Regions from separate parts of the Homo sapiens genome. Here region 1 is linked to region 2. Evidence: fine-mapped expression QTL. A gene starts in region 2. The other region holds a variant in brackets. All regions are shown on one strand. Distances are between the middles of the regions. Region 1 has its middle 29 kb from the start of KLHL31. Region 2 holds the start of KLHL31 (kelch like family member 31).

Region 1 (4,400 bases), 28 kb before region 2:
AGAGGTACTTAGGAGGTAAGAATGATAAGATGTCAGGCTTCATTGTGTATTATGTATTTAGTGGGAGGCACGAGGTCTGTGAAGAGAGAGGATCCTATGACAACCAGTAGTTTTCTGTCTTGGGTGACAGACGGATGCTGGTGCCATTACCCAGACAGGGAATGCAGGGAGGAAGAAGAGAGTTTCTGTGTTTGGCTCCTTCGGTTCAGTTTCTCTACTTGTCTGTTGTCTGAGTACACTTCCATATTCAATGGACAGTTGACTTTCAAAGAAAAGCAAAAGATTTCTGAATAATATGCAAGAGTTGAGCATGTAAAAAATTCCATGGAAATCTCTTGACCCAGACTGATAACTGAGTAATAGAAAAATTAAATTAAGCTATTCTTTAACTTACCACTAAAATTAAATTTTAGAGAATTTCCCAATGCTTTTATAAGGAAAGGAAAACATCTTGCCTTGTGTACCTCTCCTATTCCCTCAACATACTCAATAGAGACTTATTCAGGTTCAATGTCTGGGTCATAGTAATAAATTGGCTGAAAATAAAATTTCTGCTAAAATATTAAGCATGGAGATATTAATTCACAATGACTTAAGGCAAAAGTTTTCTGAAGCTTTCTGTGTTTTAAAAGTAAGCATATAAAACATGAAAGTAAACATATCATTCATTCATTCATTTATTCACTTAACAAATATTTGTACTGAGAACGTACTGTGTGCTAAGCTGGAGGTACAGAGCAAAACACATAGAGCACAGGCTGTTCTGGTACAAGAGCATTCTCGTGGTGGGAGATCTCAAAAAAAAAAAAACTGAATATATAAAAGTGGTTATTTACACCTATATTTTCCTGAAATACAGCTCTGGATTCCAGAATGGCTCTGGAATCAGCCATTTCTCCAAGGAACCGTGATTCCTTTTAGTAGAATTTAGAGCCTTCTTGCTAAAAGAGTGCCACTGCTACGGGGCTCTCAGTAAACACAGAGCTCTATCTCGTTATCTGCACATGCACACAAAATAAGTTTACACCAATAATGCCAACTCTATTCAAACACCACAGGGTTCATTCTGTTTTTCTCCCTTTCCATATTTATATCCCCCTTCACTGACAATGAGAAACCTGGCACCCATTATTCCTGATCTGCTTACTTACCTAATCAATCCTTCCCTATCACCAAGTTCTTATTGCTGCTGCCACTTTCTCTTACCACATATGCTCCCTTCACGCCACCCCCACGCTGCCACATCCACGCTAGACCCCGCTGGTGAGTGGGAGCCCTCCTCACTCTACCTGTGCCCTGATGGCCTGCACTGAGCCAGCCACTGCATGGGCACCCTCCTCACCCTGCTTTGGCCTCAACACCCTGAGTCAGGCTGCTCTCCCATGGGTACCTCTTCCTTCCTCTTGAGCTCTAATGTGAACCCCATAACAGGCCACTCTTCCAAGTGCACAGCCTCTTCACTGGTCTTTGAGCCTGCAATCTTATCTACCTTGTCAAATAGGTGATACAAGTAAAGAACAAAGACCAGAAAGCTAGCGTATGCATTATTTAAGGGAGTAGGGCAGGAGAGGAAACTTTGGATGTCAAACAGCTCCTCCTGCCACAAAGCAACCTTTTACTCTTTAACTTTTCTCCTTTGTACTGCCCCGGTTTATTAAAGACATTCATCTTCTATTAATCGAATTGAAATTTAACTAACAGCAGTGATCATTGGTAACCAGGGCAATAAGTTAAAGGACATTCTATTGTACTCTAAACATTTTTCCATCAAAAATAAGCCAGGTCTAAGGATCCTGTGTTGCTATTTTTCAGAAAATTCCTCTGGGGTCAGGTTGACCTACAAAGAAAGCTAGTTCTACTTCAGTGGGCCCCTTGTAAAGGTCTTTTGTTTGGCTGCTTTTGTTTTATTTTTATCTGGAAGACTCCGCAGAGCTTGTTACATAAGGAGAATAAGTTAAAACTTACTGAAAGTAGACTGATTGACGGAACCCTGAGACATAAATAATGTACTCACCTTCCAAAGATCCTTTGTAAGGCAGGGTTTTCTATTTAATGACATTCTACCCTTTTGATTCCTCTATTTAATGACATTCTACTCTTTTGATTCCTCTCACTATAGCCGTCCTTGACATGAATGCCTGAGAACCCTTGCCCCTGACTTTTTCCCTTGACCTTGCTCTCCAACCTAATCCTGGAATTCCTTCCTAATATAATTATAAATTCTGGGATTCCACCTGAGACCAACGATGACTTCTTCCTAGTGTAAT[T/C]GACAGTCTTCAGGGCCCGGACATCATCTGTCACAGCCTGGAGCGCATATGGAGAAAAAGAATGGGGTATGTGTGCACAGGTGTGTTTGTGGAGAGCCCACATTGCTTTTCTCTCTCTGTCTCTCTTTTTTTTTTTTTTTGAGATAGACTCTTGCTCTGTCACCAATGCTGAAGTGCAGTGGCATGATCTCAGCTCACTGCAACCTCTATCTAATGGGTTCAAGTGATTCTCATGCCTCAGCCTTTCAAGTAGCTGGGATTACAAGTGGTCGCCACCTCACCCAGCTAATTTTTGTATTTTTAGTAGAAACAGCATTTCATTATGTTGGCCAGGCTGGTTCAAATTCCTGACCTCAAGTGATCCTCCCACCTCAGCCTCCCAAAGTGCTGGGATTACACGTGCCCAGCCTGCCAGCCTTCTCTTCTTATCTTTGCTTGAGTCACTTTAAGTCCCTTATTTGCCATATCCTGGGCAAGACTTTGAGAGAAAGAAAAGACGACTTAGAAGCCTCTCCTGCTCAGCACTGGACCACAATTTAAATTCATCATAGATGTGGTATATGTTACCCAAGCATCAACCCCAAATTTGAGGATTTAAGTCAGGATTCTCTCACGGGCTCTATGGGCTGAATCCAACCCCTTAAAAATGTTAGCATGTGTCCAGCAAAGCATTTAGGAAGTGAATGTGAATGTTGCAGATAGGGTGTGCCCTCCCGAGGCTGGTCCAGTGCCTTCCATTTCTGTTGTCCCGCAGCAACCACCACACCCTCTCTACATACATTGTCTGTTGTGGGGTACATGACATAGAACCACACACATAGTTTCCTTTATTTATTACACGATCTTTTCACCCATCCCTGTTGTTTTAAGAGGTCTTATAGATGCTTTTTCCTCTGCCTCTCCTTCCACCTTTTATCATACATTCCTTTTTACTGTTTACTTAGCCACAAAATCCGACTGTCTTAGAGCTGGCTCTGCCCACAGTTTTTGTAAAGAGGGAGCCAGATTCAATCATGACACCTGGCTTTATTCTGGACTCTTCCCTGGTGGGTTGAGTGACATCGAGCAAGTCACGTGGAACTCCAGCATCTGCTTCCCCATCCCAAAGTAAAGGGATGGGAACAGGTGATCTCGATTTCCTACCAAGTGCCACATGGGGCCCTCTCGGACTTTTTTTGGTTGCAATCCAAATAAAAGAAAACAATAGAGAAAAGGTAACATCTACTTTATTCACTCAACAACTATTAATTGAGAAAAAAGTAAGTGCTGGGGATACAGAGATGAATAAGACAGATAAGGTCACTGTATTAGAGGGACACAGTACACGAAGAATGGCAGATTGTGGTAGGTGCTCTGTGGAGAGTAAAGCATGCTAGTCCAATGAAGAGTGATTGAGCATGGACTAAGGAGGCCAGGGAGGGCATCTCAAAAGAGATGATATTTGAGCCATGACCTGGGTGAGAAGTAGCAGCAAGCCATACAAGGAATATTCAAGGCACAGGGAACACCAAATGCAAAGGCCACAGGTCATGTTTGAGGAAAAAAACCAGGCCAGTATGTCTGCAATGCATTAGACAAGACAGGAGAAGGCACAAAAGGAGGTGAGCAAAGGAGGCAGAGATCGGATCATGAAGGGCTATGCGGACCCTGACAATAGGACCACTGGAGGAAGGTAACAGAGAAATGACATGGAACTTTCTATGTGTCTGCTAAGTGCGTGTGAATGGCAGCAGGGAGTCTGGGGCAGTGGAGTTGGAGAAAATAGGCAAATTTGTTATATTTTGGAGGTAGACCTGGCAGGACTTGCTGAAAGATTGTTGGGTTGGGGGAAGAAAGTGAGTCATTCAGAATCACTGTTGGGTATTAGGATTGAGGAACTGAATGAATGCTGTTTTCACATGGGCTGGTATTAGCAGAACCTCAAGTCACAGGCATTAAATCCAATAGCTCTTCCAATCTTCTCATTGTATCTCCCTGCTTATCTCATAAATATCAAAGCTTTATTCTCCCATCGAGCACATGTTTATTGATTGCCTATATGTTTCAGGCACTATTTTAAAGTAACATAGCTATTTGGTTAATTTTAGTGTGGTTGTTTAAAACAGCTTAAATTGGAACCTACTTAATCAGTAA
Region 2 (4,400 bases):
ATGATGATTGTCAGGATTCCTGTCTTTTGGGATATTGAACTGAAGGCTTTAGTTTCTAACTGGATGTTCCTTGCTTGGGCATCTCCAACCTGGCACTAGGCTTCATCAAAGCCAAGAGAGAAAGTCTGCTGTTAGGACAGATAAAAATCCCTGCCTTCATGGAGCTTACATTTGAACTGGCTGTATGGCAGAGAGTATCAGGAGGTTGGTGGAAGAGAGACAGGCACTAGCAATAGAAACAAATCTAAATTCCATTAAGGTTACATCCCCAAATTACGGAATGTTCATTCTAAAATGCCAATCTCATCATGACCCTCTTTTTTATTAAATATGCTCCAATTGGTAGACTCATTGCTTTAAAGACAAAGACAAAATTTCTTAATATTCACTACAACCTACTGTCCCATGCTGTGTTTCCAGTGTATCTACCATAGCAGTAGTCGAATGGTTACACAGACTAGCTACTCTGAAAATGATTTTTAAAGTGTCTTAGATTTTCCATTTTTTGCCTTTTATTCTTCCACTTGTGTTCATATCTTAACATTATATTATATTGAAAGGAGCATCTCAGTGATGTTCCAGTAAAACTGGAATTAATAGTCTTGAACCCTTGAAGAAGATAATATTGGTACCAACATCTTCTTGAAGGCCCTTTCCATCATTATATCATCATTATCATAAATACTGATATAAGGCTGACTTTTATTACAATTAAAACGGGATTGAAGGCCAAGGCAGAAAGATCACTTGAGACCAGGAATTTGAGACCAGCTTGGACAACATACTGAGATCCTGTCTCTACAAAAAACAAACAAACAAACAAACAAAGATGGAAGGTTCTGACCCTTTACCTGAGTCAAGGAGGTGGGACCAAGTAGAATTTCTTAGAAGCAAACCATAATAGAAGCTTCTTTGATTTGCTCCTGGCGCTTTCTGTGCTGGAGATCTATGGGTAGAAGCAAAGAATTAAAAAAAAAATCCAAATAGTTTTTCCTACTAAAAAATTGGTGGGAATTCCAGCAGAAGTAGTCAATAGACAGATGCTATCCAGTGAATTGAGAGTCTCAGGTGAACTGGAGACTGGCACATATAGAATCAGAGCCTTAGAGTTGGAAAGATTTCAGAGATGATGCAGTGCAAGCCCCCAGCCATAGACAGAGTCCCTTCAATGTCACACCAGTCCTGCAACTTCTTTTACTTCCACCCTTCTAATTATAGAGAACTGGCTCTTTTACAAGGCTGCCATTTTCATCATTAGAGCCCAGCTGTTATCTGCACTCTTCTTCTTTATTTTAAGGTATTTCCCCGGAATTACTGCACATTAAAATTTTTGACATTTTAGGCTACAGAAATTTTGACTGAATCCTCTTGCTGTACAACAGCCCCCACAACACTTGCTCTCAGGTGTCTCACTTATCTTAAAAGTCCTCTCTTTGTCATACTTCTCTTCAGATGTTTCCAACATGCACCGCCTCTGAAGTTTTTTTGTTCCAGCCATCTCTGTAGGATGAAGAGTAAGTTCTCAGAGTGCCAAGATAGCAAAGTGATGCTTAACACATCATCTGACTAATGAAGAATAATTAGAACATTTATTTTCCATGATCTATTTTTCTATTATTGTAGCTTAATATCATGTTAACTTTTTAAGCAACCATTTCACACTCTTGGTGCCCATTAAAATTTGTAGTCAATTATAATCATTGAATTTTTTTTCTCATGAAGTGTTGCCAAAGTAGATATTTCCCAACCTGCATGTGTGCTAGAGTGTGTGTTAATCTCAGACCTCTCTGTGATCACTGGAAAATCGCTGGCCATAAACCTCACTTTATTAAACTCTAAAATGAGCCTAATAATGTTAGAACCACATGTGAGGTGCTGTAGAAAGTACCATATCTGGTAGATACGTGCTCCTCTTATAAAGAATAGGCTATTTATAACCACTATCTTCTCAAAAGACCGTAGGTGACCAGGCTAATTACCTTTCCAAAAACTAATTTTTAATCCACAGCCTTCCCTTCTCCTTACTCTACTAGAATCCCTGCTTCCAACAATTAAACATCCATCGAATTAATTTTCTTTCCTCTCACACAGGTTGATTGAGCTCTTGACTTTCTTTCTTTCTTTCTTTCTTTCTCTTTCTTTCTTTCCTTCCTTCCTTCCTTCCTTCCTTCCTTCCTTCCTTCCTTCCTTCTTTCTTTCTTTCTTTCTTTCTTTCTTTCTTTCTTTCTTTCCTTCTTTCTTTCTTTTCTTTTCTTTTCTTTTCTTTTTCATTTTGAGCAGCTGGTCAGTTCAAGAAACCCAACCCCTCTCCACCAACCGGAGCCCCGCCCCCTGCCCCCGGCTGGCTGGAGAGTTGAAGGCCAAAGACGGAGAGGAGGGCGCTCGCTGCTCTGCTCCCGGGCCAAAGCGCAGGCTCGGCCTGCCTTATCCAGTGGGACGGCAAAGGGTCACTCTAAAAATTGCTGCAGCCGGGTCTTGTCAGGTGGCTGCTGGTGGCTCCCCACCGGATTTTCCTTCTCCCTCTCTCTATCTCCACAGATCCCTTCCCAAGAGGAGTCTCCTGCTAAAACTTCATCATCTCAAGTTGACCTGCCACTTCACCCAAGGAGGGTAAGGAGCTGGGACCAGAGTCGCCAATTCCTGCCTTCTAGATCCTGGGGTGTGTGTGGATGTGTGGGTGGGAGAGGGTGGGCTGAGTGTTTGTGGTTGTAGAGCTATTTTACTGAAGGGAGTCTACAGCTGGGTCAGGTGGTTCATGTCCCTAATCTGAAGTTGGGAGACAGAAAACATTTTTTTGAAATCTGAGAAATGTAACGTGTTAGGAGAACTTCACGGTAACAAAATGCATGACAATGATGCCCTACAAATGTAAAACCACCTGTAATTTCTAACAAAAATTCTAAATCTCTAAAGCTTAAGATATATTTTTCTTTCACTACTTTATAGAGAAGGAGAAGGAGAGAAAATTCTTAGGCTTTGTTCACAAAGTTTAGAATTCTACCTTTATTTTTATCAAGAATCATTTTAACATTTGTTACTGATCAGTTTGGATGAAATGTTACCAGTTTTAACTAAATCTGTAGCACAAAACTCAGACAACTCTGAATTCCCAGAAATATAACCTATTGATGAAATGGAAATATCCTTCCTAAAAAAAAAAAAAAATTTGTTATTTGGCTAAAAAATAGGTTTTTGTCTTAAATGTGCACATATCATTATGCTGACATATATTTTATATTAAAAATCATGTTGGAAGTGTAATGGTGAAGTGGAAACCACCCCCCTACACCCCACCCCGAGGTTGGACTTAAAATGGCAAGCCACAGAAGCCAGGAGGGTTTCTATTCCTGGAGGTAGGGCTGATGAGCCCCGACAGATGCAGCGATAGGAATGTGGCCAGGACAGGGAGCAGGCGCAGCTGATTCGCCCCTTTGGCAAAAAGACATTCTGGGATCCCAGTTCATACTGGCATGAGAGTGACAGTGACACTTTAGCACACATGGCTTTCCAGTTTACCCTGTTGTGGACTCCCAGGAAGCATGGGTGCAGGGCAGTGGGAAGGAAAATGTTCTCAAATATGAAGTAACAACTCTTTTCTATAACCAGTTCTGGGGGTCTTCATCTGGGATCAGCTGGGGCCAGGAAGAATTTAAGTGCAATACTTTCACATGGACTTGCCCACTTACAGACAAGGGTCCAATTATGTACCATTGCTTGGCAGCATTATTCTCAGTCCAGTCATTTTGGATCTATTTCGGGTTATGGATCTCATGAAAACGCTGAGCCCAGTGTGTGGAAAGTACACATAAACATATGCACACAGTATGTTTCAGACTATTCCGCAGGACTCATGGACTCACCTGATACCCAGCCCTGATCAGGAATGCCAGATACAAGTCAGGTCATCCAGCTACATTTGAATTTCAGGTAAGCTACAAATCAACTTTTAGCATAAGTATGTCCTCAACACTGCCTGGGACATACTTATACTAAAGTATGATTCATAGTTTATCTGAAATGCAAATGCAACTTGACATCTTGTATTTTTATTTGCTAAATCTAGCTGTTCAGACCCAGACATATAGATCCCATGTAAAGAAACCTTGTCTCAGTTCGTTCATCCCTATCTGATAATGAGTAGATTCTAAAGATATGGAAGGCCATATTACAGGGAGATTTAATGTAGGAACAGATTTTGACAATTCTGACAGCAAAAGTCAGCTGTGTATTCATAACTGTCTGCAAAATTATAGAAGCAAAAGTAATGCATCTCCTTGTTTGACAGTTGATTATACTGAAATCCTGATAGGTTGGACGTTCTGCTATAGGTCTATCAAGTGGTTAGAGCAGAATGAACACCGAAACCCAATTTTCAGTTCTATGATAATCAAAAAGGCATC

The links. PIP is the estimated chance that this variant, and not a neighbour inherited with it, causes the effect.
Region 1: its variant is the best candidate, but not a certain one, in a credible set for the expression of KLHL31 in testis (GTEx, PIP 0.53).

The regions. Positions count from the first base shown.
Region 1 is chr6:53,692,113-53,696,512 of GRCh38, reverse strand. No RefSeq gene overlaps it. Among named protein-coding and RNA genes, the nearest start is that of KLHL31, 29 kb to the right of the region's middle. The variant T/C (reference allele first, on the strand shown) is at 2,268.
Region 2 is chr6:53,663,811-53,668,210 of GRCh38, reverse strand. It overlaps KLHL31 (kelch like family member 31), which reads left to right and starts at 2,455. Exons shown (of 3, transcript NM_001003760.5): 1 at 2,455-2,610.